7 linked regions of the Homo sapiens genome follow. The protein of the gene in region 1 purifies or fractionates together with the protein of each later gene. This does not show direct contact. Each region holds a gene or a part of one and is shown on either strand. Other genes may lie near its edges.

Evidence for each region.
Region 2: the proteins of CLPB (region 1) and EXOG purify together in Homo sapiens (affinity purification with mass spectrometry; 2 studies listed by BioGRID and IntAct, with this or other methods). This does not show direct contact.
Region 3: the proteins of CLPB (region 1) and DDX19B purify together in Homo sapiens (affinity purification with mass spectrometry; one large-scale study listed by BioGRID and IntAct). This does not show direct contact.
Region 4: the proteins of CLPB (region 1) and ARFIP1 purify together in Homo sapiens (co-immunoprecipitation; 3 studies listed by BioGRID and IntAct, with this or other methods). This does not show direct contact.
Region 5: the proteins of CLPB (region 1) and EIF5 purify together in Homo sapiens (affinity purification with mass spectrometry; 2 studies listed by BioGRID and IntAct, with this or other methods). This does not show direct contact.
Region 6: the proteins of CLPB (region 1) and KIAA1191 purify together in Homo sapiens (co-immunoprecipitation; 3 studies listed by BioGRID and IntAct, with this or other methods). This does not show direct contact.
Region 7: the proteins of CLPB (region 1) and CLUH purify together in Homo sapiens (co-immunoprecipitation; 3 studies listed by BioGRID and IntAct, with this or other methods). This does not show direct contact.

The regions. Positions count from the first base shown.
Region 1 is NC_000011.10:72,287,959-72,291,840, forward strand, and holds part of CLPB (mitochondrial disaggregase), read right to left. Parts: 3' UTR 1-3,882. UniProt on the Homo sapiens protein: Functions as a regulatory ATPase and participates in secretion/protein trafficking process. Has ATP-dependent protein disaggregase activity and is required to maintain the solubility of key mitochondrial proteins.
Region 2 is NC_000003.12:38,494,933-38,499,649, reverse strand, and holds the start of EXOG (nuclease EXOG, mitochondrial isoform 1 precursor), read right to left. Parts: upstream 3,311-4,717; 5' UTR 3,283-3,310; coding exon 3,120-3,282; exon of another isoform or gene 2,022-3,119; coding exon 1,872-2,021; intron 884-1,871; exon of another isoform or gene 1-883. UniProt on the Homo sapiens protein: Endo/exonuclease with nicking activity towards supercoiled DNA, a preference for single-stranded DNA and 5'-3' exonuclease activity.
Region 3 is NC_000016.10:70,322,920-70,327,033, reverse strand, and holds part of DDX19B (ATP-dependent RNA helicase DDX19B), read right to left. Parts: intron 2,450-4,114; coding exon 2,347-2,449; intron 1,461-2,346; coding exon 1,346-1,460; intron 1-1,345. UniProt on the Homo sapiens protein: ATP-dependent RNA helicase involved in mRNA export from the nucleus.
Region 4 is NC_000004.12:152,786,298-152,790,411, reverse strand, and holds part of ARFIP1 (arfaptin-1), read right to left. Parts: intron 1-4,114. UniProt on the Homo sapiens protein: Plays a role in controlling biogenesis of secretory granules at the trans-Golgi network. Mechanistically, binds ARF-GTP at the neck of a growing secretory granule precursor and forms a protective scaffold.
Region 5 is NC_000014.9:103,340,676-103,344,789, reverse strand, and holds part of EIF5 (eukaryotic translation initiation factor 5), read right to left. Parts: intron 3,828-4,114; coding exon 3,738-3,827; 3' UTR 1-3,737.
Region 6 is NC_000005.10:176,355,265-176,359,348, forward strand, and holds part of KIAA1191 (putative monooxygenase p33MONOX), read right to left. Parts: intron 486-4,084; coding exon 307-485; intron 157-306; exon of another isoform or gene 1-156. UniProt on the Homo sapiens protein: Potential NADPH-dependent oxidoreductase. May be involved in the regulation of neuronal survival, differentiation and axonal outgrowth.
Region 7 is NC_000017.11:2,701,691-2,705,804, forward strand, and holds part of CLUH (clustered mitochondria protein homolog), read right to left. Parts: intron 2,875-4,114; coding exon 2,672-2,874; intron 1,800-2,671; coding exon 1,628-1,799; intron 368-1,627; coding exon 224-367; intron 48-223; coding exon 1-47. UniProt on the Homo sapiens protein: mRNA-binding protein involved in proper cytoplasmic distribution of mitochondria.

The sequences.
Region 1 (3,882 bases):
TTTCTTTTTCCTACCTTGTTAAGTTTAGCTTTTATCTTTATTGGTCCATTTTCTATTTTTTATGGTTTAAGTGTGTTTCTTTCCTAAATTTCTTTCTTGTTTTTCTTCTTTCACTATATTGAGGAATTTCCCTAAATTTTAAAATCACTACACACCTTTGAGTTTTTCTTTTTGAACAATAAACATGTTACACTTTCATTTCCAAGTCTGGTCTCATGTATTCTAGGATCCTCAATAAGGAATTTGGGGCCGGGTACAGTCGTTGACGCTTGTAATCTCAGCACTCTGGGAGGCCAAGGTGGGTGGATCACTTGAGACCAGGAGTTTGAGACTAGCCTGGCAAACATGGTGAAACCCCGTCTTTACTAAAAATACAAAAAAAATTAGCTGGGTATGGTGGCATATGCCTGTAGTCCCAGCTACTGAGGAGGCTGAGGCATGAGACCTGCTTGAACTGGAGGTGGAGGTTGCAGTGAGCCAAGATTGCACCACCGCACTCCAGCCTGGGCGACAGAGCAAGACTCTGTCTCAAAAAACAAAACAAAACAAAAGAAATCTGGGTCTCACCTTGCTGCATTGTCTCAGAGCTCAAATCCTGGCCACAGCAACATGGGACAAATAAAAATATGCTGAGCAAACAAACAATACTTTTCTGTTCCAGAGCCCACTGAGAAGATCTGCACTTGCTGCAGGTCCCATCCACTCACCCAAGTATAATAATAAAGGAACATCTGTCATATGCCTGCACTGTGCCAGGTTCTGTGAATGGCTGAACAGCTTGGCATCTGCCCTCTTAGAACTTACATTCTAGTGATGAAGACACAGAACAAGTAGGACAAGTGAGCTGAGCCTGGGATGCTATGGAAGTAAAAGATATGGGTCCAACACCACCTAGGAGTTCTGGCAGAGAATCTCTGGAAGAAGTAATTCTTTTTTTGTTTGTTTTTGTTGGAGACGGAGGCTGGCTCTGTCACCAGGCTGGAGTGCAGTGGCACAATTTCGGCTCACTGCAACCTCCACCTCCCGGGTTCAAGCGATTCTCCTGCCTCAGCCTCCCGAGTAGCTGAGACTACAGGCGCCCGCCACCACGCCTGGCTAATTTTTGTATTTTTAGTAGAGATGGGGTTTCACCATGTTGGTCAGGATGGTCTCAATCTCTTGATCTCGTGATCTGCCCCTACATGGCCTCCAGAGTGTTGGGATTACAGGCATGAGCCACCACGCCCGGCCAGAAGTGATTCTTAATTAGGTTCCTTAGAATCTAAGGTTCTACCCCTGTCTCCTTATCCTATTCTCAGGAAGGTGGCCATTGGCTTTTCTTGTATAAAAGTTATCTGATTTTAAGTTATATGCCTAGTATTCCTGGCCACAGTTAACTGAACCAACGGACTGACAGCCGGGCATAAGACCTCTATCTAGTAGGAATACTGCACACAGGCTGGTTACTAGCTGACTTAACTAGAGCCTCTATGGGAAGTCTAAACATCAAATAGAAAGGAGCAGAAACAGAGATAGCAGGAGAAAAAGCAGAAAAAGAATAGTAAGGTTATAAAAATGGCAGTCGCAAACCCTATGGTATTGAATTAAAACCGTATCTAAACTCATGATTTTTATTTATTTTTAAAAATATGAAACGGAGTCTTGCTCTGTCACTCAGGCTGCAGTGCAGTGGTACAATCACAGTTCACTACAGCCTCAACCTTCTGAACTCAAGCGATCCTCCTGCCTCAGCCTCCTACGTAGCTAGGATTACAGGAATGCACCACCATGCCTGGCTAATTTTTTATTTTTTAAACGTTTGGAGGATGAGGTCTTGCTATGATGCGCAGGCTGGTCTTGAACTCCTGGGCTCAAGTGATCCTCCCACTTTGGCCTCCCAAAGTCCTGGGATACAGGCACGAGCCACCATACCTGGCTCACGGTTTTTAATAACATACAGATGGATAGAATAATAAATTCAGGTGCTTGTATTTGCATGTTTTAACATATATACATATATGTTTTCTAGCTCTGTCTGCTGAGCAGGCCTACAAGCAATGACACTCCGCCAATGATACTCTAGCCAGGAGTATATATTCTGTCCAGATCTTGGTTTCCAGTGGCATCAAGAAACAACTTGGTTTCTAAGTTCCTTTTTTCTGGAATAAAAGGAACTGGGAGCTTCTTAGAGAATGACTGATGCCAGGGCTGAGATAGGGAAAATGTGAGGAAGCCTGAAACATCTTGTGGTGCCAGAAAATGCTTAAAAAGTGACAGGGGCAATGTCGAAACAACACAGTGCCAACTTCAATGAGTTCTCACTGGCCAAATCTGAGCCAATTTGAGCAACCAAATAAACTGTTAGCATTAGATTGTAGCCTGTAGAATAAAACAGATATCCACTCATTCATACTGATATAAATTATCAAATAAATAAATGGGGAAAAGGGACAGCTCTTCCTTATAGTAGAATACCAATTAATAAATACAGGTAAAATAATGAAACAAAGTCACCATTAGGCAAGCATAACATTAATACCTGTTATAAGCAAGAATCATTGATGATGGAAATGAAAATCAGTAGGCAAAATTTTAAGAATAAGACATTCACATAGCTTCAAAGTGGAAGATTCTTGTTAATTTCAAAGGGAAAATTCCTAATTTTACAGTGGAGAAACCTGGCACACACCACCTTAGCCATGTGATCAAAGTTACCACCACCTAGTCTAGGTGTGGTGGCTCATGCCTGTAATCTCAGCACTTTGGGAGGCCGAGGTGGGTGGATCACCTGAGGTCAGGAGTTCAAGACCAGCCTGGCCAACATGGCGAAAACCTGTCTCTACTAAAAATACAAAAATTAGCTGGGTGTGGTGGTGGGCACCTGCAATCCCAGCTACTCAGGAGGCTGAGGCAGGAGAATCACTTTGAACCCAGGAGGCAGAGGTTGCAGTGAGCCGAGATTGCGCCACTGCACTCCATCCTGGGTGACAGAGCGGGACTCCGTCTCAAAAAAAAAAAAAAAACCAAAACAAAAAGTTACCACCACCCTCCGCTAGGAGGCACTAAGAATAGCACAGTATCACTTCTGTGGTTGTCTTGGCAAAAATGCAGATCCTCAATCATATCATGTAAAAACATTAAACAAACTAAAACTGGGGAATATTCTATAAAATAACTGGCCTGGACTCTTCCAAAGTGTCAAGGTCATGAAAGATAAAGACCAAGAAACTGTCACAGGCTGACAGAGATGAAGGAAACACCACAACAAAATGCAATATGGGACCCTGGACCAGACAAAGGACATCATCGGGAAAACTGGCAAAATTTGAATGTCCGTAGATTAGTTAGTAGTAGTTTATCAATGTTAACTTCCTGGTTTTCTTTTTTTGAGACGGAGTCTCACTCTGTCGCCCAGGCTGGAGTGCAGTGGCGTGATTTCAGCTCACTGCAACCTCCGCCTCCTGGGCTCAAGTGATTCTCCTGCCTCAGCCTCCCAAGTAGCTGGGATTACAGGTGGGCACCAGCGGGCCTGGCTAATTTTTGTATTTTTAGTACAGACAGGGTTTCACCATGTTGGCCAGGCTGGTCTCGAACTCCTGACCTCAGGTAATCTGCCTGCCTCAGCCTCCCAAAGTGCTGGAATTACAGGCATGAGCCACCACACCCGGCAATTTCCTGGTTTTGATAAACTACAGTATGGCTTTGTAGGATGTAATCATTGGGAGATGCTAGATGAAAGATACATGGGAATTTTCTACTATTTCTGCAACTTTCTCTAAGTCTAAAATTATTTCAAAACAAAAAGTAAAAAACAATGAAAAGCAGGCCGGGTCCAGTGGCTCATGCCTGTAATCCCAGCACTTTGGGAGGCCGAGGCAGGCAGATCACAAGGTCAGGAGATTG
Region 2 (4,717 bases), on another chromosome or scaffold:
AAAAAGGTAAAAAAAATACAGATATACACTTTTTATATACTAACATTTTCTGTTTCAGCAGGAAGATTCTATCTGAATAACTCAGTCCATCATTACTGAAAACAGAAGACCTTTTACATTAAAATCAAGTAAAACACAGGTACATTGCTCCCTATTTTCAAATAATATTAATTGGCTCTATTTTATTGCCTCAAAAGTACACAGCTCACAAGACTTATTATACAATATAAAATGCCCAGGTTTTCTTATATGCTTGATAAAGTTTTCACTTACATCAGTTTCTGTCTAACACCAAGTACATTCCAAGCCTCCTGTTATTCTGCTGGTTGCTGTGCACTCTAGAATGGCACACACTAACTTTAATATCAGCATTTTAATATGCATAGCCATAGCACACATTTTAAAGCAAAGGAGAATATGTGGAACACACAGCAAATTAAAAAGCAAATAACAAAAGGGAACAAAACAACTGTGACAAAAGGTAATATCCTTAATAAATAAAAGAACTTTTACAAATAAATTCAAAAGAGAATACCCCAACTGAAATAGGTAAAGAATAACTTACCAAAAAAGACTAATTCACAGCATGTTAACCCTCATTGATAATCAATAAACACAAGTAAAATGAGCATTAAATTGGTAAAGCTCAGTAATGCTCACCATAGGTGAAGGTTGAGAGAGAGAAGAAACAATGATGCTAGGAGTGTAAACTTGAAGAATCTACCTAGAAACCAATTTGACATTAATTATCAAGATCTGGCAATTCTACAGGACCCTATCAAGACATAAGGACACATGAATAAACTGACACACCTGCTTACTTCTCCAGCATCATTTCACATCACCTTCCCCCTCATTCATCTACTGGCACTCTTTTAGTTCCCTAAAAGAACAAAACTCCTGTCCACATTGGGGGCCTCCGAAGATGCAAATGTTCCTTTCTTCCTAGAATGCTCTTCTCCATATCCCATGGCACATTCAACCCCTTGCCTAAGTAATTTCCGTTCACTCTTCAGTCCACTTTTCCAGAGAAGCCTTACTAATCAAAATCAGGTTCTTGTGTTATAATCTCTCATCACACTTTTTTTTTTTTTTGAGACACATTCTCCCTCTGTTGCCTAAGCTGGAGTGTGGTGCTGCGATCTTGGCTCACTGCAACCCCCACCTCCTGGGCTCAAGAGATCCTCCCATCTCAGTCCCCCAAGTAGCTGGAACCACAGAGGTGCACCACCACGCCCAGCTAATTTTTGTATTTTTTGTAGAAACGCGGTTTTGCCATGTTGGCCAGGCTCATCTCAAACTCCTGAGCTCAAACGCCTCAGCCTCCCAAAGTACTGGGATTACAGGTGTGAGCCACCACGCCCAGCCTCTCATCAAACTTTTTACTGTTCCTTAATTATACTACACTAACTTGCAATCACCTCCTTTGGAAAAATTATTGTAATTATACATCTAAAATTATTTGTTTGATGGGTCAACCCACTCTCCCAACTCAAAGTGTCACTGGGGTAGAGATCCTCTACTCTGGTCACACATAGGTCCCCAAGGGTTACCACAGTGCCAGACACATAGCAGGCACATAAATATTTGTTAAGGTAAAACTGAATGGTGCTCATTGCTGTAATATTTATGACAGAGCCTCCCAACTAGTGTGTCAAGATATGGGTATTTTCAGCCCTGAGACAGCTGGAAAGGGTCTGGCTTTCTGGCTGCCAGGCAGGGTTGATTTAACCAGTAAGTTATATAAATATAATTTTCTACATGTGCTATGATATGAAAAAGGTTGAGAATATTAATAATCATCCCTGTTTTAAATTTGGAGACATCTTTCATAAATACTGTTACTTCAGTTTTTTTATCCAACCACCTACCCATTATCTTGCTTTTGGAAATATGTTCAAGAACCCATCTAGGCACCCGCTTTGCCTGATCATAAGACAAAGCGTGATTAGTGTAACACCTTGCCTCTGTTCCAGTTAAAGGGAATCCAAATTGTTCCAAGACAGCCTTTTCTGCAGATCCTAAAAATGAAAAAAAAAAAAAAAGGGGGGGCAGAGACAAAAAAAACACACACACACAATTAGTGGCTCTTAATAATGAAAGATTATAAGGAAAAGGAGAGCGGTGTGATTTACAAAGGACTGGCTCAGAAGTCTAATCAACCAGAAAATCTCATTTTTGCAATTACTTATGAGATGAAGAAAACAGACAGTAGGCAAAGTACTGATTTGCCTATAATCAGTGAATAAAATGCAGCTACTGCATTAACTTTTGAATAAAGACTTGATCTTATTAGTCTTTCACATCAAATTTCCAAATCATCTCTGAAGCACTGATATGTGTGCTGTTGCAAGATGACAGTAAAACTGGTACTGTTTTTCCTAGTGGGAGAAACCAAGCACACATTCAGCAGTGAGTCAGTTTCGAGATAATCCTCCCCGATGCCTTCTCAAATCCTCAACCCCCCAAGGGGGTAGTTCTCTTGCTAGATGCCAAGTATCCAAAGGAGCAAGTTAAATTAGCACATCCGCAAAGTACAAGAAATGAGCTCGTGTTAATTTTTTTTTTTTTTTTGTCAAATATAAGGTACCCATTGCAACATGAGTTTTTATACACTTTGGAGGGATAGCAGGTATTCTTCAACTGAACAATGACGAAAGAAGGGCAGTTAACTCATCTACTAAAATTATGTATTAATTTATTCCTTCATTCATACTTACTGAATGCCAATTATGTACCAGGTACTGTGCTGGTTAGATGATGGAGACCAAAACAGACATAGTCTCAAGTCTTATGGAGCTAACAATCTTAGTAGAGAACACAGACATTAAAACATAGATATCGCGATGAGTAACTGGGGGGAAGAAAGTCGGGCGGCGGGGGTGGTTCTGTGCAGAAAACGAAGATGCCCGGGGGAAGGAAGGACATGAGGGAAGCTGGCGAGACGCGAGGTGGGGAAGGGAGGCCGAGCCGGGAGAATAAAGGTCAGAAACCAAGGGCCAGGCTAGGGGCCCAGCAAACGGTGAAGGCTGTCCGTCAAGGACTGCCATTCACACTCCAGGTAGGAGTCGGAGCCCGAAATCTGGGCCAGCGAAGGGAGGACGGGCCCACAGACTTACCATCCGGCTGCTTCCCTGTCAACGCTCCCTCAGCGCCCTGACTCCGGAAGAACTGCAGGGCCGCGAGCCCAGCTCCCGCAGCGCCCACTACAGCCCCAGCCACGAAGCCGCTCAGAAAACGACGGGAACCCCGGAGGCGGGAAGCGATACTCTTGATAGCCATCTTGCCCGAGGTACCGGCCTTTTACCACGGCGCATGCGCGCGCATGCCGGCCCCCGCCATCCCCCCGTCACCCCACGCCTCACCGCCCGCCAAGCTGAGGGCCTCGCACGCCCCCTGGTGACAAACCGGGATGCCTAGCGCATCCCCGCTTCATCCCTGGTCCACTGGACGGGGCGATGGATGGGGAATATGATGTCTAGAGGGCTTAGTGGTATGCTATATATAGTCATGAGAAGAAAATACCTTTAGTCTCATTTAATAGGTGAGTAAACACTTGCGCATGGTTACACTAAGGTCTCCAGAGCCGATATTCCAACTCAGGTCTATTTATTTATTTAGCGACAGGGTCTCTGTTACCCAGGCTGCAGTACAGTGGAATGATCATAGCTTACTGCGATCTCGAACTCGTGGGCTCAAGCGATCCTCCTGCCTCAGCCTCCTGAGTAGCTGGGACTACAGGCACGTGCCACATTGCCCGGCTAAATTTTTGGCGGGAGTGGGGGAGCGGTAAAGAAGGGGGTCTCCTTATGTTGCCCAGGCTGGTATCCAACTTCTGGCCTCAAGCAATCTTCCCGCCTCGGCCTCCCAAAGTGCTGTAAGTCCAGGTGTGTGTCACTGTCCCCAACCTTCTCTTTTAAATTGGAATAATAATACTTAGACCATAGCGTTCTTGTGAGGATTAAAGGAGATGACACATGTAAAATGTTTAGGGAAGTACCAGGGGCATGTCACTAAGTGCTCTATAAATGTTAGAAATGTTTGAGTCATCTCTACTCTTTGTCTTGATAGAATATAAAATCCAGATTGCTGAACGCCTGCTGGCAAAGAAAGGATAGATTTCATGGACTACCACTCACAAACAAATGAGTCTTCATTTTGCAGCATGATCTCTAGCATTCCGTGTGGACTTAGTTCTTAGCAGAAACTTCAAGTTTCCTATTTCTTAGATAACTGGTAGGAATAACTTTCATCTGATCCCACTGATGATTCACTGACCAGGAGGCCACTTCTAACAACCTACTGAAGTGTGCACATTATTTTGACAGCCTCAAATGGGAGGCTACCCCCTTGCCAGGAATACCTCTTCTGAAGGACCCTGACTGGTTAAGCTACATCAACCAGAGTCCTTCCTAGGGATTTTCGATCTAGTAGTCTCTCTGGGTAGCAAAGCTGTGACGTAAAACTCACAGGCGCAGTGGCTCATGCCTGCAATCCCAGCACTTCGGGAGGCCAAGACTGGAGGATCACCTGAGGTCAGGAATTTGAGACCAGCCTGGCCAACATGGTGAAACCCCGTCTCTACTAACAATACAAAAATCAACCAGGTGTGGTGGCGCGTGCCTGTAATCCCAGCTACTCGAAAGGCTGAGGCAGAATTGCTTGAACCCAGGAGACGGAGGTTGCAGTGAGCTGAGATCGTGCCACTGCACTCCAA
Region 3 (4,114 bases), on another chromosome or scaffold:
TGAAACCCCGTCTCTACTAAAAATACAAAAAATTAGCTGGGCGTAGTGGTGGGCGCCTGTAGTCCCAGCTACTCAGGAGGCTGAGGCAGGAGAATGGTGTGAACCCCAGAGGCAGAGCTTGCAGTGAGCCAAGACTGTGCCACTGCTCTCCAGCCTGGGCGACAGGGCGAGACTCTCTCTCAAAAAAAAAAGAAAGAAGTCTGGGCACAGTGGCTCACACCTATAATCTCAGCACTTTGGGAGGCCGAGGCAGATGGATAACCTGAGGTCAAGAGTTTGAGACCAGCCTGGCCAACGTGGTGAAACCCCATCTGTACTAAAAATACAAAATTAGCCAGCCATGGTGGCAGGCACCTGTAATCCCAGCTACTTGGGAGTCTGAGGCAGGAGAATCACTTGAACCCGGAGGGCAGAGGTTGCAGTGAGCCAAGATCATGCCACTGTACTCCAGCCTGAGTGACAGAGCAAGACTCTGTTTCTAAAATAAATAAATAAAAATAAACAAATCTAGAATGTAGAATTTTTGTTTGTTTGTTTTTTGTTTGTTTGCTTGTTTTGAGACGGAGTCTCGCTCTGTCGCCCAGGCTCGAGTGCAGTGGCGCTATTTCAGCTCACTGCTAGCTCTGCCTCCCAGGTTCACACCATTCTCCTGCCTCAGCCTCGCAAGTAGCTGGGACTACAGGTGCCCGCCACCACGCCTGGCTAATTTTTTTGTATTTTTATTAGATACGGGGTTTCACCATGATAGCTAGGATGGTCTCAATCTCCTGATCTCGTGATCTGCTGCCCGCCTCGGCCTCCCAAAGGGCTGGGATTACAGGCGTGAGCCACCGCGCCCGGCCAGAATGTAGAATATTTGAAAAGCAACTAGTCTGGTCTGTGCAAAATGTTAAATATAATAGGGAGAGAAAAAGGTAGGGGTACAATTCTAGATTGAAAGAAACAAGTACAACAACCAAACGCAACGTATAAACGCTAACTTGATCTTGGTCGAAAAACCAAACAGCTATAAAGGAAGACTTTGGGAACAGCTGGGGAGGAATAAAAATGGACTGGTATTAGTTATTCTAGGAAATCTGTTAATTTTCCTGGTTGTGATAAAAGGGTATCCATAGGTATGGCAAAGAATGTCCTCATGAGGTGCATGTCTGCAGTTTACTTTCAAATGGTTTGACAAAAATGTATACATTTATGTAAAGCAAATATGGCAAAATGTTAAGTTTTTGAATCTAGCTGGAGAACATACATGTGTTTATTGTATTATTTCAACTATTGGGTGGGTTTTGAAATATTTCAAAATAAAAAGAATTAGGTTGATGATTTAGGACCAAATTCACATACTCACATTTATTGCCTCGAACAGCATAAGCTAGCTTCAGTTCAGGGTAAAATTTGCCCATTTGTTCAATCACTTTTCCTGTTTGGAGGGCGAGCTCATACGTTGGGGAGAGACATAGACACTGGCAGGAAAAGAATGCAGAGTGCAAATTCAAGACAATAGCTCTTTTGCAAAGGGGAATTACCATTAGTACTTAGCCACTCCTCCAGCTGAAGCTGAAGGAAAGAATATGTACATTAAAATGTACACCATTTGATTCTTTAAGCTACAGAGTCATAAGCTAGAATTCTTAGGGGTCAGAACTCTGGCTGGGTAAAGACACTTGAAAACAGATACTGGCCACTGCAATACAAAAACCCACCCATGAGCAAGGATCTAAAGTTCCAATTGGCATTAGCTTTCTTTTCGTTTACTCAGAAAGCTCTCAGAACTTTCTAATGGATGGCAGTTGCTGATGAAACAGGTTTTCCTGCAAGTAAAGGAGCCAAGCCTGTAAGAAGCATCCCAGAACTGGCACACCATGGAAAAAGGAAACAGGATTTTTATTGCCATTGGAAGATATCCCGTATTATTTGTGCTCAATTTAAGGAGTTTCAGTTTGTGTAAAAAGTAATGCATAGCTTGGCTTTTATTTTATTTTTTTGAGACAGAGTTTCGTTCTTTTTGCCCAGGCTGGAGTGCAATGGTGCGATCTCAGCTCACTGCAACCTCCGCCTCCCGGGTTCAAATGATTCTCTTGCCTCAGTTTCCCAAGTAGCTGGGATTACAGGCACATGCCACCAGGCCCAGCTAATTTTTTATTTTTAGTAGAGACAGGGTTTCACCATGTTGGCCAGGCTGGTCTAGAACTCCTGACCTCAGGTGATCCGCCCACCTCGGCCTCCCAAAGTGCTGGGATTACAGGCATGAGCCACTGCACCCAGCCCATAGCTTGTCTTTTAATCCATCAAATGGAAATCCCCTTCTATCTATGCATTAGTAGAAAACCTAAATTCATAAATCCTTACCTGGGGGTATTTGTTTGCAGGTTCTACTTGGCTAAGCATGGCCAGCACGAAGGCAGCTGTTTTACCAGTACCAGACTGAGATTGGGCAATTAAGTTCTGTGGGCTGCGCAAGAAACAAACTAGTTAGGAGCTTAAATCTCAACCTTTTAGTTAACAAAGTTTAAAAAAATGAGTATTAAAAATTCATTTATAGGAGACCTTGGATTATGTAGCAGAGTTACATATGCTAGCTTCACAAGAACAGGGCACTATAGAAATAAGATTTTCTGGTGGGATTTGAAGCACTCCACATCTTCTTCTTTTTTTTTTTTTTTTTTTTTTTTTTGAGATTAGGTCTCACTCTGTTGACCAGGCTGGAGTGCAGTGGCACAATCTTGGCTCACTGCAGCCTCAACCTCCTGGGCTCAAGTGATCCTCTTGCCTCAGCCTCCCAAAGTGCTGGGATTATAGGTGTGAGTCACTGCAGTTGGCCTACTGATTCTTAAAATGTGAGTCAGCTCACATTACTTCTCTGCCCAAAGACCTTCCAATAATTCCTCGTTTCATTCAGAGTACAAGTTGAAACCCTCATAATGGCATACAGGTCCTGCATGATCTGCTCCCCATTACACCTCAGCTCTCATTTCCTACTACTCTCTCTCCCTTACTTCGTTCCACCACAGGGCCCTAGTACTGCTCAGAGAACATGCCAGTCATGCTCTTGTCTTAGGGCTTCTGCCTTGGCTGTGCTCTGCTTGGGACAACTGTCCCCAGATAACATGCTAACTCCCTTCTCTCCTTCAAGTCTTTGCCCAGATATCTACTTCAGGAGATCCTACCTTAACCACTTGATTTAAAAGTGTAATCTACCTTGAAATGCCTAAAAAAAACAAGATGTAGGTTTTGGTAGCAGGGTAGGGGGTAAGAGTGGCAAGAACCAAGTCTTGCCTTGAAGGTGGCAAGAAGCAGCTCAAGAAGCAGGCAAGGCCAGGCGCGGTGGCTCATGCCTGCAATCCCAGAACTTTGGGAGGCCGAGGTGGGTGGATCATTCGAGGTCAGGAATTTGAGACCAGCCTGGCCAACATGGTAAAACCCTGACTCTACTAAAAATACAAAAATTAGCCAGGCATGGTGGTGGGCGCCTGTAGTCCCAGCTCCTTGGGAGGCTGAGGCAGGAGAATCGCTTGAACCCACGAGGCAGAGGTTGCAGTGAGCCGAGATCGCGCCACTGTACTCCAGCCTGGGTGATAGAGCGAGACTCAGTGTCAAAAAAAAAAAAAGAAAAAAGAAAAAAAGCAGGCAAGGTCAGGTGCAGTGGCTCATGCCTGCAATCTCAGCACTTCGGGAGGTTGAGGTGGGTGATTTCTTGAGCCTAGGAGTTTGAGACCAGCCTGGGCAAAATACCGAAACCCTTTCTCTACAAAAGATACAAACATTAGCTGGACATGGTGGTACATACCTGAAGTCCCAGCTACCTGGGAGGCTGACATGTGAGGATCTCTTGAGCCCAGGAGGTGGAGGGTGGAGGTTGCAGGCTGCAGTGAGCTGAGACTGCACCACTGTACTCCAGCCCTGGTGACAGAGCAAGACCCTGTCTCAAAAAAACAAAAAACAAAAAACGGAGCAGCCGCAGCAGGCCAAAGATATGGACGAGGAAAATGAGGTCTTCCGGCAGGGGAAAAAACAAACAAACAAACAGAAGAAACATGAACTAAAAGTGAAACCATGGGGAGGGCCCCCGGCCACAGGTGGAATTTTAAAATCTGGCAAAAGTAAGCTGTTCCTTATG
Region 4 (4,114 bases), on another chromosome or scaffold:
TCTTCATAGATGGCTCAGTTCCAGAACATTAGCAGTGAAGCCAACCAAGAACCAAGAGAGGTGGTCATCTCTGTTGTTGTAATTGATTTCATTCAAAGATCAAACAGGTTACCTGTTATTTGGTATTATCTGAACTGCTTTTGTCCCTTAGCAATGGATAATTGGAGAGTTACTTTTTGTTACTAAATTCCCAAAACCATGTAAAATAAACCCCTTCAATATTCACAGGTAATTTTTTTAATGAAAAATGCTCACAGGAAATAAACTGAAAATATAGCTTAACATATATATAGTTACATATAGAAATATTTATAGATATGTGTATATACATGAGTTAGTGTACACACATATATTTCCTTACTCTGTCCACTGGGAGGGCCTAGAAGCAATGACATTCCAACAGCAATGAGCAAACATAGTGCCCAGATATTGGTTTCTAATACTATTCTCCAATAGAAGGAATCAGTGCTCCTTGGAGAAAAGGCTGATTCTAGGCCTGTGGTAGGTAATACACAAGGTGAGCCTAGAGCATTTTGTAATACCAGAAAGTTAAAAGTGCTCAAAAACAAACAAACAAACAAAACAAGAACAAAAGTCTCACAATGACAGGAGTATGTCAAAGGAATACAGGAACCAACTAAAAGAGCTCCCAGTGGCCACAGCTGAAACAATTTGAGCAACAAAGTAATAAAGTACTACTGGATTTACCCTTAAGTATAAAATAAATATCCATGAGTCAGACTGATATAAATAAACGACTGAAAGGGGAGAATAGACAAAAAACTCTTATAGAAGATTTTTCAAAAATTTATGTAGACACTTCACCCTTAAAGAGGTAAAGCATAATTCCCCAATTCCCAATTGTGTGCTTCACAGAGAGACTTTCTTCTAAAAAGTACAATATACAAAAGGAGGGGGAAAACAGAGTAACTTTACAGTGGACAAAACTGATGAACATTATCTCAAGCCAAGTAGTCAAGGTTAATATCAATGGTACTGTCATATTAATAGTTTGTATTCTTGGCCAGGTACAGTGGCTCACGCCTGTAATCCCAACACTTTGGGAGGCTGAGGTGTGTGGATCACCTGAGGTCAGGAGTTCAAGACCAGCCTGGCCAACATGGTGAAACCTCTCTCTACTAAAAATACAAAAATTAGCCGGGCATGGTGGCATGTACCTGTAGACCCAGCTACTTGGGAGGCTGAGACAGGAAAATCGCTTGAACCCAGGAGGTGGAGGTTGCAGTGAGCCGAGATTGCGTTACTGCACTCCAGCCTGGGCAACAGAGTGAGACTCTACCTCAAAAAAAAAAAAAAAAAAAAAAAAAAAAGTCTGTATTCTTGATATGATGTGATGGGAATGGCACTTTACTTCTGTGATCTTCCTCCTAGAAACATATCACCCAGTCTAATGAGAAAAACAGCAGACAAGTCCCAACTGAGGGACAGTCTACAAAATACCTGACCAGGCAGTAATCTTCAAAACTATCAACTTGTCATCAAAAACAAGGAAATCTGAGAAACTGTCAAAATGAAAGGATACATGACCACTAAAGGTAATATGCTATCCTAGATGGGATCCTTGAACAGAAAAAAAAAAAAAAAAAAAAGACATTGGGGAAAAGTGAGGTAATCTGAATAAAATATGGACTTTAATAATTACGTGCCAATATTGGTTAATTGTGACAAATGTACTATGCTAATGTAGTATGTTTTTGTTTTTGTTTTTTTGAGATGGAGTCTCGCTCTGTCATCCAGGATGGAGTACCGTGGCATAATCTCTGCTCACTGCAACCTCCGCCTCCTGGGCTCAAGTAATCCTCCCACCTCAGCCTCCCAAGTAGCTGAGATCACAGATGGGCACCACCATGCCCAGCTAATTTTTTGTATTTTTGGTAGAGATGGGGTTTCACCATGTTGCCCAGGCTGGTCTTGAACTCCTGAGCTGAAGCAATCCACCTGCCTTGACCTCCCAAAGTGCTAGGATTACTGGCATGAGCCACTGTGCACAGCCTATCTTATAATAGGGGAAAGTGGGTATGGGAAGCTCTATTCTATCTTCACAGTAATTCTGTAAAACTAAAACCATCCAAAAATAAAAGGGTCTATTACAAAATAGTGTAAGAATACTGTGCTATATTGCTATATTTTATATAGCTACTAATAACACATTTTTTGTTTTGAGACGGAGTCTTGCTGTCGCCCAGGCTGGAGTGCAGAGGCACGATCTCGGCTCACTGCAACCTCTGCCTCCCAGGTTCAAACGATCTTCCACCTCAACCTCCCAAGTAGCTGGAATTACAGGTGCAGGTCACCACGCCCAGCTAATCTGTATATGTATATTTTTTAGTAGAGACAGGGTTTCACCATGTTGGCCAGGCTGGTCTTGAACTCCCAACCTCAAGTGATCCACCCACCTCGGCCACCCAAAGTGCTGGGATTACAGGCGTGAGCCACTGTGCCCGGCCTAATAATTTATTTCCATACACTTGAAAGAAATAGTCAAACTGAAAATTTAATTACAGGTTGATTATCCCTTTTCCAAAATGTTTGAGACTAGAAATGTTTTGGATTTCAGATTTTTTTGGCATTTGGAATATTTCCATATGCATAATGAGGTATCTTCAGGAAGGGACCCAAGTGTAAACACAAAATTCATTTACATTTCATATACACCTTATACACATAGCTTGAAGGTAATTTTATATAATACTTTTAATAATTTTTTGCATGAAACAAAGTTTGTATACACTGTACCATCCAAAAGCAAAGGTGTCACTATCTCAGCCACTCATGTGGACAGTCTGTGGTTGTTTGACATCACTATCATTCCCGTCTCTGAATTTATATGCTACGTATAACCAATCATTTCTTACACATACACATGGCATTGTATTGCCCTTTGCGGGCATGCTTGCGTAGGTGCATCTGGCTGTGTGAGGAAAAGATATATGGCAGCTGAAGGGGGCTAGGCAGGTCTTTTTTCTCTTGGAGAAACTGTTGTACACCTGCATTCTGACTTTGATTCATCACATAAAGTTGGGTGTAGAATTATGTACTTGTAGCATCATGTTGGGCTCAAAAAAGTTTTGAATTTTGCAGCATTTTGGATTTCAAGTTTTTGGATTAGGAATGTTCAAACTGTACTACCATTTTAACACTATTTTTATAAAAATTCATATTCAAATTCTTGTATTACAAAACTCGATGAACTGAAATCCTTAATACCATTAACTTGGAAATTTAATGAGTCAAATTTAGGTGTCAGGTACTGAGCTAGGTTCTAGGGATTCAAAAATGAGCCAAAAAAGAAAACAAGATATGGACCTTACCTTCATGAAGTTTATAGGCCACTGAACAGAAAGAAAATCTTACAGTCACATGAATAAATGTAAATTGCAAACTGCGGGAAATGTATGATGCTATTACCTTAATGTGGGAAGTGAGCATATTCTCTAAGGATGCAAAACTTCAGCTGAGGTGTGAAGGATGACTAGGAACTAACAAGTGAAATGAAATGAAAGTAAAGAAAGAATGGTCCAGACAGAGAGAAAAGCATGTACAAAAGCCTTGCAAAAATGGCAGGGAGCAAGGTGCATACAAAGGACTAAAGAAGGCCAGCATGGTTGAACTGGAGAGTTATGCAGAACATGGTACAAGATGAGTCTGGAGAGCTAAAGGCTGTTAAGCAGTTTTATTTTGATCCTAGAAGCAATGGAAAGCCATAAAAGCACTGGGGGAGGAAGAAGGAGAGTGATAATCCAATGTGTGTTTCAAAATAAATCACTGTGCCTTCAAGATGGGTAATGAATTAGAGAGGACAGATAAGAATGGAGGCTATTGTAAAAGTTTCAGGCAAGATGAAGTGGCAGTAGTGGAAACAGGAAGAAATAGAAAAATTCAAGAGTCATGTAGAAAGTAAGACTTTAAAAACTTGTTCAATCATTGGATCTATCAGGGAGAGGGAATTAAGGATCACTTCTAGTTTTCTGGATTTTACAATGAAAAGATAATTGTGTCATTCACTGAAAAAAGGAACAAAGAAAGAACCAACGTTGTGCAGTTTTGTAGGGAGGGAAGGGGAAATCAGTTTCATTTTAGACATACTGGATTT
Region 5 (4,114 bases), on another chromosome or scaffold:
TTAACTTAATACGTCTCTTTCAGATGTCCCTGCTTTTTAGTTAATTGTGTTTTCTACTCTCCTAAAGACTTGATTTTTATTTTTTAGTTAACTGACCGTTTTTAAAGAGGTTTTAGGCTCATAGCAAAATTGGGTGGAATTTCCCCTACTGCCCCAGCCAGGCATTGCTTCTGACTGCAGCATTAGGCTTCCAGTGGGATTGAGTGCTGCACATAAGGGTCTCCACCCCCAGCAGATATGGAAAGGCAATCCCCTAGTTTTACAGTAAGGCCTGGGACAGAATCCAAATTTGATCCCAACACCCAAGTGAATCCTCCTCCTCTTAAAAAGAAATAATTGACTGCATAACCGAACTGCAGGGTCAACTCAGATCCTACCATTCACCTGGAGGTCCTGACATTGCACCTCCCAGTCTAGGTCCCAAGAAAAGAACTCTGTAGCTTCTATTCTCATATCCCAGCACACACAAGTCCTTAAAATTTCTGGCCATAAAAACCACAGAAATTTGATTCCCAGAAAAAAACTGTTTGGCTAGACCAGACAGGTGGACATAAACACCCTGAGCTCCCAACCTATTAACAAAGGCTCACAGGGTCACTCTGGTGCACAAACCTACAATGAGACTACCTGCAAGTCATTTGCTGTCACCCCACTTATGGAATGTCACTATGAATCAAGATCTGTACTGGGGACAGAGATGACCAAAGTGACTCCCTGTCCCCTTGGGGTCACACAGCACATGCAACGAAAGTGCAACACTGTTTCTGGTACTAAGACTGCTCTGGCTTTGTAGTAGTCAGGGAGGCTGAAATTTGAACCATCAAAAAGATGATGCAGGAACAAGGTCAACTTTGCATTTGCTGGTTACTCCGGAATACTGGTAGGTCAAGCTGTAGCAATTAAGAAAATAGCTGGTTAGATAAGGATTGTCTGCAGACTTGTCAAATAAATTTAAAATACATGAAGGGTTATTTTGTTAGATAAGTGACCTTGGTACAACAGTACCTATGCCTCAGGACCACGATGAGGACTGACTGAGCTAACAAAATGCAAAAGGTTCAAACTCACTTATCTGCTTTTTGCAGATGGCCAGCTTTCACTTCTGCCATCTCCAGGCCAAAGGCATAAAGTCAGTGCTTGGTACACTGGAACAAACAGCTTGGGGCTCAATTTTGATACCCCTCCCTTCTCAAGCGGGAAGCGGTGGATTAGAGACCTCCTTGCCCATCTCTAAACTTTAGGACCCACACTAAAAATTTTTAAGTCAATTTCAGAATGCACTTGTTTAGAAAGCAAACCTCCCCATTCCCTCATTCTTAACTAGAGATATATACAATTATTCACAGTTACATAGCTGTATGTATGTTCCCTATTAAGCACCTGCCAAGATTTCAAGTAATAAAACTGAGGCAGATGCTCAGTTCACAGACAAGACTAGCAAATAAAGCCAGTGACCCAATGAAATGAACAACTTTTGTGAGTGGGGCTGGCAAGTGTAACTGCAGGATACATCCAACACAAATCCAAAGCAACGGCTACAAAACAGGGCAGATTCCAATGCTTTGATCTCATTATAAAATGAAAACTTGTTAACTTTAATATTAAAGCAAAGACAAAATACAATTTTATCATTATTTTAATCAAGTAACTTAGCTGTTTAAACAAATCCTTAAGACAGTTCAATAGAGCAAAGTGAAGAATTACTCTATTAGGATAACCTGTGAACAAAGTTCAGATTATGTGAATTTGTATTCCATTCGAAGTTTGGCACCAGACTGAACACTGGTTTAAGCCAAATTTTTTAGTGTTCTAGAAGCCCTGAACATGTTTTCCCTCAGATTAAAAGTAGAACCTTTATAATAGAACCTCATTAGCTTGACACTGAGTATGCTGAGTGCAACTTAGCTTAGGTCACCAGTATCTCCTACAGAATTCCAGTTAATGAAAGCAGATCAGCCTTGCGGCAAAGAATTTGAAACCTAGGCAACATACAAGTTTGAAGAAAAAAAAATCCTCTTTGGTGTGACAAAGCACATTCCCTCCAGGTATATGGCTCCTGCTCCACTTGCACCCGAATCTTGATCAAAGGCAGCTGGAGACCAATTCTTGTCTCTCCAATAAGATTGCTAGGTTTCAATTCCTTAAAATATCAAGCCAACCAAGTTTTATTACATCAAATGTTTCTATCATTTCAATGTGAAAATTTTTTTACGCCTATTTGTTATTAAGGTCTCATTATCTGTGAAATAATCACAAAAAAACAGAGGTGAATGGTATAAGCCACTGCTCCAAAATTAACCCTATCGATTCTCGATTCCCACTGTGCACTTTGTGAAAAGGGTAACTGCCAAGAGGTTTAACCTTGAAGATGATTACTCAAACAGTCAGAACCCATAATATGAGTTTAGATCAGGCAAGGAGTTCATGAGGAAGTTATCAACTCTTGTGTGTCCAAATCTAAAGCCCTGCATGGGCTCTGTCAGGTCCTTGTCACCTGCACTCAGGTGGCCATCAGACTTCTTGGGTGCCTGGCTATATTCAATGTGAAGTAAAAAATATCCCAAGTCTTACACCAAAATAGAGGCTCTGACTTAGAAGTATGCTTTTAGCTTTCTTTTTAAATAAGACATTCTGGAAGAAAAAAAAAAGAAAAAGGAAAGAAAATCAAGTTTGAAACACAGTTAACACTTATTTTGGCAAGAAAGCAACCAAAATCTAAAAAGCATAAACTATGTGTCCAAATGTAAAAGGCATTACAGAACAAACTGCAAGAGGGGAAAATTAAAGCCACACTGAACGAAAAAATACAGTATGTCTAACATTTTGGAATTGTAATTTAAACCCTAAGGGCAAAAGCTGAAAAATCATGCTTAGGTTGCTAGTTAAGTGCACCCTTCCTTGTTTCTCCCAAATAAAATCAGTTTATTAATTGCACCCCAAAGCAAGTTCTCTCAGTACAAAGTAACTACTACGTACACACAAAATGCTTGTTAATGTAATAATTTCCCTGGCTCATCCAACGTGCAATGCACACGACTTCAAAGACAATTTGGGGCAAGTGTACATGAAATGAGAAAACAGCTCTCCAAGTTTCAAATCCTGCTCTTACATTATTTATAGGACACTGAGGTCATATTTACTTCTTGGTTAAGATGTTACACTGTCATTTCATTATCAGTCTACCTCACAATGTACATTACCAGATGCCAATTTGAGGAACTACAGAGATAAAACTTTAGTACTTTCTTAATGGGCTGAATAAATTAATTACAATTAAGTTTGCTTTACATCCTGTTGAGGACCTCTTTGCAGCCCCAGGACCTAACAATATCTGGCAGGCTCCAAGAATGCTCATCAGGTGAAATGATGGCAGAACATTTAAAGTAAGGAGCCAGTTACTTCAGCTTAAGTCATTCAGAGCCAAACATCTGAAGAACGACCAAAATCAAACCTTTATTTTTATAACTGTATAAATGTGATCCAAATGTGTCCACCACTAGTTTTTCAAAAAGAAACATGCTATAAATAAGCAAACTACATCTGCTCACTGATGTGTATGGACTCCCTAGATGTCTCATTGGGCTTAATAACAGACCACTCACAGTAATAGATTTTTAGTGTAAAGTGTAGCATGATGTTAAGCCATTTTAGCTTTTGCACATACATGTTGCACTTCTGGCTGATAATGGAGGAAAATTTGCAGCATTATACTGTTAAGCTAGGTTGCATCCATCCCTTTAAATGGCATCAATATCGATGTCGTCATCCTTGTTGTCTGACTTTACAGTCTCAACTTTCGGTACACTGGCAGCCTTCGAATACACCACCTGTTAAGAGGAATGATTTTATTCAACATAAGCTGATAAATCTGTTTATAAAACAAATCAATGTAAATTGTGGTCACAGAGGAGGAAACTGCCTAGATGCAGCTATTTCTTCTTCACGGAACAGCTCTGTTATGCAAACACTGCAAGTTCTCTTACACAGGCTCCAGTCTAAGAGCATTTTTAAAGTTTTTTTATAGACTATAATGTGTAGGAGTAGGAACACAGTTTCCATCACCCTTTCTATTATTTTCCAAATTATTGAGAGGCTGTATTTTACTGCATCTTAA
Region 6 (4,084 bases), on another chromosome or scaffold:
ACCATCTATTGGGTACACTGTACACTATTCGGGTGACGGGTGCACTAAAAGCCCAGACTTCACCACTATACAATTCATCCATGCGAACAACACCTCGGGTAACCCTAAAGCTACTGATTTTTTTTTTAACAAAATAAATAAAATCTTAAAAAAAAAAAAAAGACAGCTATAACTGAGGCACAGAAAACACATACAGGGAGTGGTTGCTGCCCAGTCCCATGGGCACAGGGAGCCACTGAAGGCTTCTGGAGCAGAGGAAGGACAAAGGGGTTGCGTATGCCAGAAATGGCCAGCAGGGTCAGATACCTTGGCGAGGTGCTGATACTTGCGCTCTGGAATCACTGGCTTCCAAGGGACGCTGCCCATGTCCGATGGAGGAGGAGTCATGGGCGCAGGGTCCTCGAGGGTATCATCATAGCTGACTGCCCGGCGGTATATCCCGATGGGCAGGGACATCTTGCCTAGAGGCGCACTAGCCTCAAGAGCTAAGAACAGAGACACCTGTCAAGACAGGTTCAGCAACTGGACATACTAGCAGCTTTAAATTAATCTACAGGAAGGAAAGCTCTGAAATACTCTTGTTCTTGAACAGAGCAAAATAGCTTGTTTTGGAGTAGCTAATCCCATCCAGGAAAGGCAGTGGTACCAATCCCTTCCTCTATGCCTGACACCTTGGGTGGTCCACTTAACCCACTCAGCCGTCCTAATCCTTTTTTTTTATTATTTGTTTAGAGACACAGTCTATGTTGCCCAGGCTGGAGTGCAGCGGCACGATCACGGCTCACTGCAGGCTCAACCTCCTGGGCTCAAGTGCCTCAGCCTAGCGAGTAGTTGGGATTCTAGGCATGTGCCACCATGTCCAGCTAATTTTCATGGATCAGGAAACCTGAAGTTCCATTTAAAGGTACTTGACCACAACTTCAAAGTACAGTTTGGAATCCAATCCCAACCAAACCTATCTGATTTCAAAGCTGTGTCCTTTATCCCACAGAAGCCACCCCCTACTGCAATACTAAGGCTCTCAGTTCGTGCAAGACTGAGGATATGAAATGACCGAGGATACGAAGTTCTCATTCCCATTTCATAGATGAGGAAACTAAGGCCTAGGGGTAAAGTGACCTTCCCAAGTTCATTCAGAAAATGGCTACCTGGGGCTCAGCCAAGGTCTGTGAATCCTCTACCTTCCTTTCCTCACCAAAGAAAACACCAGCACTAACAGAAATGTTTGTGGCATCACTGTTCTGTATGATTTATTTAAACAGTAGAGTCACTTTCCATCACAGAAATTATTGACAACCACTCTCACAAATCACCAGCTGATCCTGCCATTCCTGTCCACTGGAACTGACGCCCAGCATGTCGGGTTGTGATGCAGCCACCCCATTCAAGGGCACTCTCAGCTGTGCCAGACCAGGGAGCCAAGTTCATTGTGTTTCGTTTGCTAATCCTTGCATATCAGAACTAATGTCCAGAACCTACCTGAAAGGTAACATTTTCCTGTGGCTAAAATCATATAATAACACTCTCTAAGACATCAACCTGCCTGGCAATAAGTCCAAAACCACAAAAGGTTTCATTTAAACGGCAAGGGGACCAAGCAGCTATCATTATTATTACTATTGCTATTAGTAATAATTAACAAAACCATAGAAATAAAAAGAGGATTAGAGGTTGCCAGGGAGTGGGTGGGGGGAGTGAGGATACGACTGCTAATGGTACGAGGTTTTCCTTTGGAGGTTATGAAAACGTACTGCAGTTTGGATGGGTGTGGTGGCTCACACCTGTAATCCCAGCACTTTGGGAGGCTGATGTGGGTGGATCACCTGAGGTCAGGCGTTCCGGCCTAGCCAACATGGTGAAATCCCATCTCTACTCAAAATACAAAAATTAGCCAGGCGTGGTGGTACGTGCCTGTAGTCCCAGCTACTTGGGAGACTGAGGCAGGAGAATTGCTTGAACCCAGGAGGCGGAGGTTGCAGAGAGCCAAGATCGTGCCACTGCATTCCAACCTAGGCAACAGAGCGAGATTCCATCTCAAAAAAAAAAAGAAAAGAAAAGAAAATGTGCTGCAATTGATCGTAGTGTTGTTTGCACAACCCTGTGAATATACTAAAAATCACGACATTGTTCACTTTCAGTGGGTGAATTTTATGATATGTGCATTACATCTCAAACACACACACAAGCAAATAATAATTACTAAGTCTTCCTCCTTGCTAGACAATTACATCCCTCATCTTATCTAATCCTCATGAAGCAGATATTCTTCCCATTTTCAAATTTTCCATTTTCACAATCAACTTGCCCAATATCACCTAGCTTGAAAGAGTGTGCTGGGAACTGGAACACAGACCTGAGCCGGTGCACACACTCTGCATGCAACACACTACAAAGCATTCACTGAATGGGCACAATCCTATGGCTCGCGACGGCTACACGGAGTTTGTGGTAATCACAGCAACAATGAAAGACAAACTAAAACGGAGCTGATGATGTTAAGACTAGAGATGGATCTATATTGGGGAATACGGGAGACTTGGGGAGCAATTTCAAAAACATCTTAAAGACTCCCACTGAACAGCCATCCTAAAACAAATAAAGTCAGCTAGTATTTACTGGAAAATATGTTCATATAAAGACAGACCAAATGCATTCTGGGCAGTAAATACATATTTATCACTGATTTTTAACTCCTGTTTTTACATATTTTGTTTAATCTTCACAACCCCGAGAGATAGGAACCATCATCTTTCTTCATCATCATACTTTACCGAGAATCAGAAATTAAGCGATTCAGATGTAATTAAAAATCACTTTCCTTTCTCATAAAACAATTCAAGTAGTCATCAATGGTGTCAATAACCCAGAACTTGACTCATTAAGGGTTGCTGTGAGCATTTTCATGATTAAGTTCAATCTGCCATTTAAGCAGGCTGGTGCCTTTTTACCAAGACTTCCATCCCACCTCCCCATCACCCCCAAAAAGGTGAGTTTAATCACTTTGGTACATACTACAAGAACTGCACAACTTATTCTGAATTATTATTTGATAACTAGGAAAGTAACAAACTTGTCATAATACCCTTAAATGAAGTGACTATTCTCTTTAAGTTAAAGTTTCATACTATGGCTGAGCGGCTAATAAAATATTTAAATGATGCCAATCTAAGGCTAGGCGTGGTGGCTCACACCTGTAATCCCAGCACTTTGGGAGGCCAAGGTGGAAGGATCACCTGAGGTCAGGAGTTTGAGACCAGCCTGGCCAACATGGAGAAACCCTGTCTCTATTAAAAATACAAAAATTAGCCGGGCGTGGTGGCAGGCAGCTGTAATCCCAGCTACTCGAGGCTGAGGCAGGAGAATCACTTGAGCCCAGGAGGCGGAGGTTGCAGTGAGCTGAGATCACACCACTGTATTCTAGCCTGGGCAGCAGAGTGAGACTCAAAAATAAAATAAAACTGGCTGGGCGTGGTGGCTCACACCTGTAATCCCAACACTTTGGGAGGCCGAGGCAGGCAGATCACAAGGTCAGGAGTTCCGCCGGGCACGGTGGCTCACGCCTGTAATCCCATTACCTTGGGAGGCCGAGGCGGGCGGATCACAAGGTCAAGAAATCGAGACCATCCTGGCTAACACGGTGAAACCTCGTCTCTACTAAAAATACAAAAAATTAGCTGGGCATGGTGGTGGGCGCCTGTAGTCCCAGCTACTCGGGAGGCTGAGGCAGGAGAATGGTGTGAACCCGGGAGGCGGAGCTTGCAGTGAGCTGAGATCGCGCCACTGCACTCCAGCCTGGGCGACAGAGCAAGACTCTGTCTCAAAAAAAAAAAAAAAAAAAAAGGTCAGGAGTTCCAGACCAGCCTGGCCAATATGGTGAAACCCCGTCTCTACAAAAAATACAAAAATTAGCTGGGTGTGGTGGCGGGCACCTGTAATCCCAGCTACTGGGGAGGCTGAGGCAGGAGAATGGCTTGAACCCAGGAAGCGGAGGTAGCAGTGAGCCGAGATTGTGCCGCTGCACTCCAGCCTGGGCAACAGAGCAAGACTCCATCTCAAAAAAATAAAATAAAATAAAATAAGCCAA
Region 7 (4,114 bases), on another chromosome or scaffold:
GCAGTCGATGGGGTCCATCTCCAAGCCCTTCTTCCGCTTCCCGCTGTCTGAGGGACCCGAGGCTGGTGGTCAGCACAGGGCCACCCAGGGCCAGCTGTCTCCCTACCTCCTGATGGCCGTGGTCCGGGTGCCTCAGGCCCAGGCCCCTCGGCCCCTTCTCCAGCCCCCCACCTCCGTGCTCCCCGCCCTTTGGCCCAATCCCCGGCCCCAGTGCCTCCCGCACCTCCCAGGTCGCCGTCGGTGAAGACACTCAGGAAGGACAAGGAGTTGCAGTCAACCCCGTTGAAGGCATCGGATGGGTCCAGGCTCTTGAGCAGGTCTCGGACATGGCGCACGTGGATGCGGGCCTCACGCACCGTGTACGGCTCTGTCAGGAAGGCAGGGAGGGTATGGCGTTACCAGGGCCCTGCACCCTGAACAACCTGCCCAGCACAAAACAGGTTTTGGAGGTGCTAACACAGTGGTTTTAATTTTCAACTTTAGGTTTCCGTTTTCAAATTCCACTGTGAACACATAAGCTGGAGTTCTGGTTTTGACACCACAAACACACACACACACACACTCTGCCTACTGGTGAGCAGGGATCTTTGTTTATAAAGAACTTTCTGCCAAATGCCTCTGAAGCACACACAGGCCTCAGGCGTCCACAAGGCTGCCTGCTTTTGTGCGCCAGTGTGTCGGCTGGGCAGGGCTTTTGGAGCTGTGGGACTTCCACACCACAGCCTTGCCCTGCTCTCCCGAGGCAGCCTCATGTAGGGGTGGCCTGAGGACTTTCCAAGGCCCCCAATGTCAACACTGCCCCTATGTGGTTTCATGGGATTTTAATGGCAGTTCTTTTGGTGGAGGGGAGAGGTTCCGTGATCAACTGTGGGCGCTGTTGAGCTACAGACCTTTTCCGTCACTGCTCTCAACAGGCGGACAGGCCCTGGGGTGGAACCCAAGCAGCTTCTACCCAGAAAACTCGAGGCCACAGACCAACCGGATGGCACCTCCCCGTGCCCGACCTCCCCACTCTAGGGCTAGGAAACGTTTGGGACTTCTCATGGATCTCTACAGAACTGAACTGCGCTGACTTCACGCCCTGGGATGGTACTGCCTGATTTTTTTTTTTTAGAATCACGGCTCTGTTCTTTTGTTTTGTTTTTTTTTTTGAGACGGAGTTTCGTTCTTGTTGCCCATGCTGGAGTGCAGTGGCACGATCCGGGCACACTGCAACCTCTGCCTCCCAGGTTCAAGTGATTCTCCTGCCTCAGCCTCCCGAGTAGCTGGGATTACAGGCACCTGCCACCACGCGCAGCTAACTTTTTGTATTTTTAGTAGAGATGGGGTTTCACCATGTTGGCCAGGCAAGTCTCCAACTCCTGACCTCAGGTGATCCACACGCCTTGGCCTCCCAAAGTGTTGGGATTACAGGCGTGAGCCACCATGCCCAGCCCACGGCTCTGTTCTTTAACCCATGGGCCGTGAAGTTGGCAGATATAGGTGTGCTGGCCTGAGAAGCAGATCTGTGCTCCAATCCTGCCTCCATGAGCTCATCCGTGACACAGGGACCCTGGCATGGATGGTGCTGCCTGCCTCTGCCTCCGTGGGCCCTCCCCCGGGCAGGCTGTCCAACTTCCAGACCAACCTTCCACCACACGCAGCACAGAGCCCTCCTGCAGCCCCTCGACGCTGCGCAGCTCCGAGAAGTGGTCCAGCACGTTGCCATCCAGGTGCAGTGAGAAGCAGGTGCGGTGACACGTGTCCTCCCGGTCCATGAGCACCTGGTGAATCTCCTGCACCATCTCCTGGGGGGACACCTGCAGGGAGAAGGCCCCGCCCACCCCGGTGAGAGAGCACGTAGCGGGGAGAGAAGGCCCCAACCGCCCCGGTGAGAGGCCACGTAGCGGACAGCAAGGACAATATCCCCTTGTCCCCAGCCCAAAGTACCTTGGTCCCCAGAATAAATGCCCCAAATACTCGAATATCGGCTATCCCACTTTCTGGCTTTTAAATCCAGGCCATGTCCACACATGCCATGCCCTGTGTGTGCAGCCTGGAGCCTGGCCCACCGACTCGGCCTGCAGACCCAGAGCAATGCCCGAGCAGAGAAGGGAGATGAAGAACAGCGGGACAGAAGACGGCAGGCTCGCCCCCGGCCTTGCCCAGTGCTAAGGTGCCTGGGGCAAATGGCTTTCCCCTTCCAGAAGGGGTGCTCTGGGGCCCAAGCCTGCGGGTGCCGAGACATACGACGACCCTGTCTCGTTCCCCACTGAGTCACCGGCTTGCAAGACCTCCACGCTGGCTCTGCCCTTGGAGATAACCCAATACTACCCTCCCCTCTGGCAGATGGTAAAATCACGGCCCAGAGAGAGGTGACTTGCCTGAGGGCACAGAGCAAGAGGCTGGGGAGTCCTGGGATGCCAACACTTCCCAGCCACTATCACTCCCCTCCCCACATAGGGCTGGCAGGCCCAGCTGGTTGCTGTCCTCTAGCAATGGGGCAACGACCTGACCCTGGGCTCGATTCCCACGTCCACCACGCTAGCTGAGTGACTCTAGGGAGGGCACGGGATCCTCAGTTTCCTGCCACAAAATGGGGCCGGTAGGAGCACGAGCAAGGCTGAGCTTTCCAGCTCACCCTCCCCAGCAGGCTCAGGCCTGGCCCCCAGCACCCGTTCCTCCATCTTACCTGCAGGGAGAAGGGCTCGATCCCAGGGGCGAGGATCTTCACAGAAAAGCCCGTGTCCTGAATGACAATGACTTCCTGGCCGGTGGTCTCATCTCCCGGGCCGGCCTCGTCAAGCCCATTTTCCCTGGGTGGCTCGGCCGCCGCCGCCTCCTTCTTCAGGCTCTCTGGGCAGTCCCCGTTTAAGAGCATGACTGATGGCAGCTCTGCGGGTGACAAGAACGGGTCAGAATCAGGCAGCCTCGCTGGTCGGCGGGGCTGTCCGCCTGACCCCACACGGGGACACGTGCCTTCTGGAAAGGCATCTGCATGCCCTCGAGAGTCCCAGCCTCACGGTCGCGCCTCGCCCTCCGTGCACCTGCAGGCCACTTCCACACCCAGCCGCCCCTCCCAGCCACTGTTCCCTGGCCCACTGTGGTATGGCTTGCACCTGAACCCATGTCCCAAACCACTCTCCCCAGGGTCACCAAAGCCACCCTTCAAGCCAAGCCCGAGGGTCTCCTCCGGCCCTAACACACCTAGCTTCCCAGCAGCAGTTCCCCTCTTCCTCTCCTCTTCTCTGACCCCACACAGTGCCCTTGCCCCTCCCTCTCCAGCTCCATCCTCTTCCATCCCTCCTGAGCTGTGGTCCTGGGCTGCAGGGGGGCTGCAGGGGAGTGCCTAGGCCCAGCCTCTCCTGTTTCTGACCCCACCCCCTCCCATACACTCCTGCCCCGTGGCTCACACGGCCAATCCTGTCCTCTCTCCAGCCTTTTGGACCAAGGAGACCGCTGCCTCCCAGGCATCAACATGTGGCTGTCCCTGAGGCATCACTGAAGCCTCGTCTTGCAGGGACAGAACTCATCTTCCTCCTCAAACTGGCACCTGCTCTATCTAGTCACCCACCCTAAATCTCCCAACCCACCCACGGGACCCGGCCTCTGCAGCCACTGCCCTAGGGCAGGCATTTCCTCTATTTCAGCAGTGCCACCTGCAACCCTCCTAGGAAGCCCACTGCTTACAAGACCAAGCTTCTCAGGCCAGCGCTCTCAGGCACCCACCTGAAGTCAGCCTCAGCTCCTGCCTGCTCCCTGCTGAGGTCTAAGGACACCACACCATGCAAGCCTGGTACCGCCCACAGCCCTCCCACCGCCCTCCCACCGCTGTGCTTCTGTGTCTGTGCTGCCCCTGACATCCCATTCTGTACAGCAAACACTGACTCACCCTTCAAGGCCTAGGAGAAATAAACCTTTTCCACAGCCTGCCCAAATGACCCTTAATGGCAGAATCACACTCCCTCCCCCTTTCATTCCCAGAGACATTCGGCTGCACCCAGGGTGGCGTCCTCACCAGCAGCTCTACCCACCACCTTCTATCTTGCCCAGGCTCAACAAAAAAGGCAACAAATAAAGTACTTACTGCAAACCTCTAGCTACATCCAATATTTGAAGACAGCACCCAATCCAC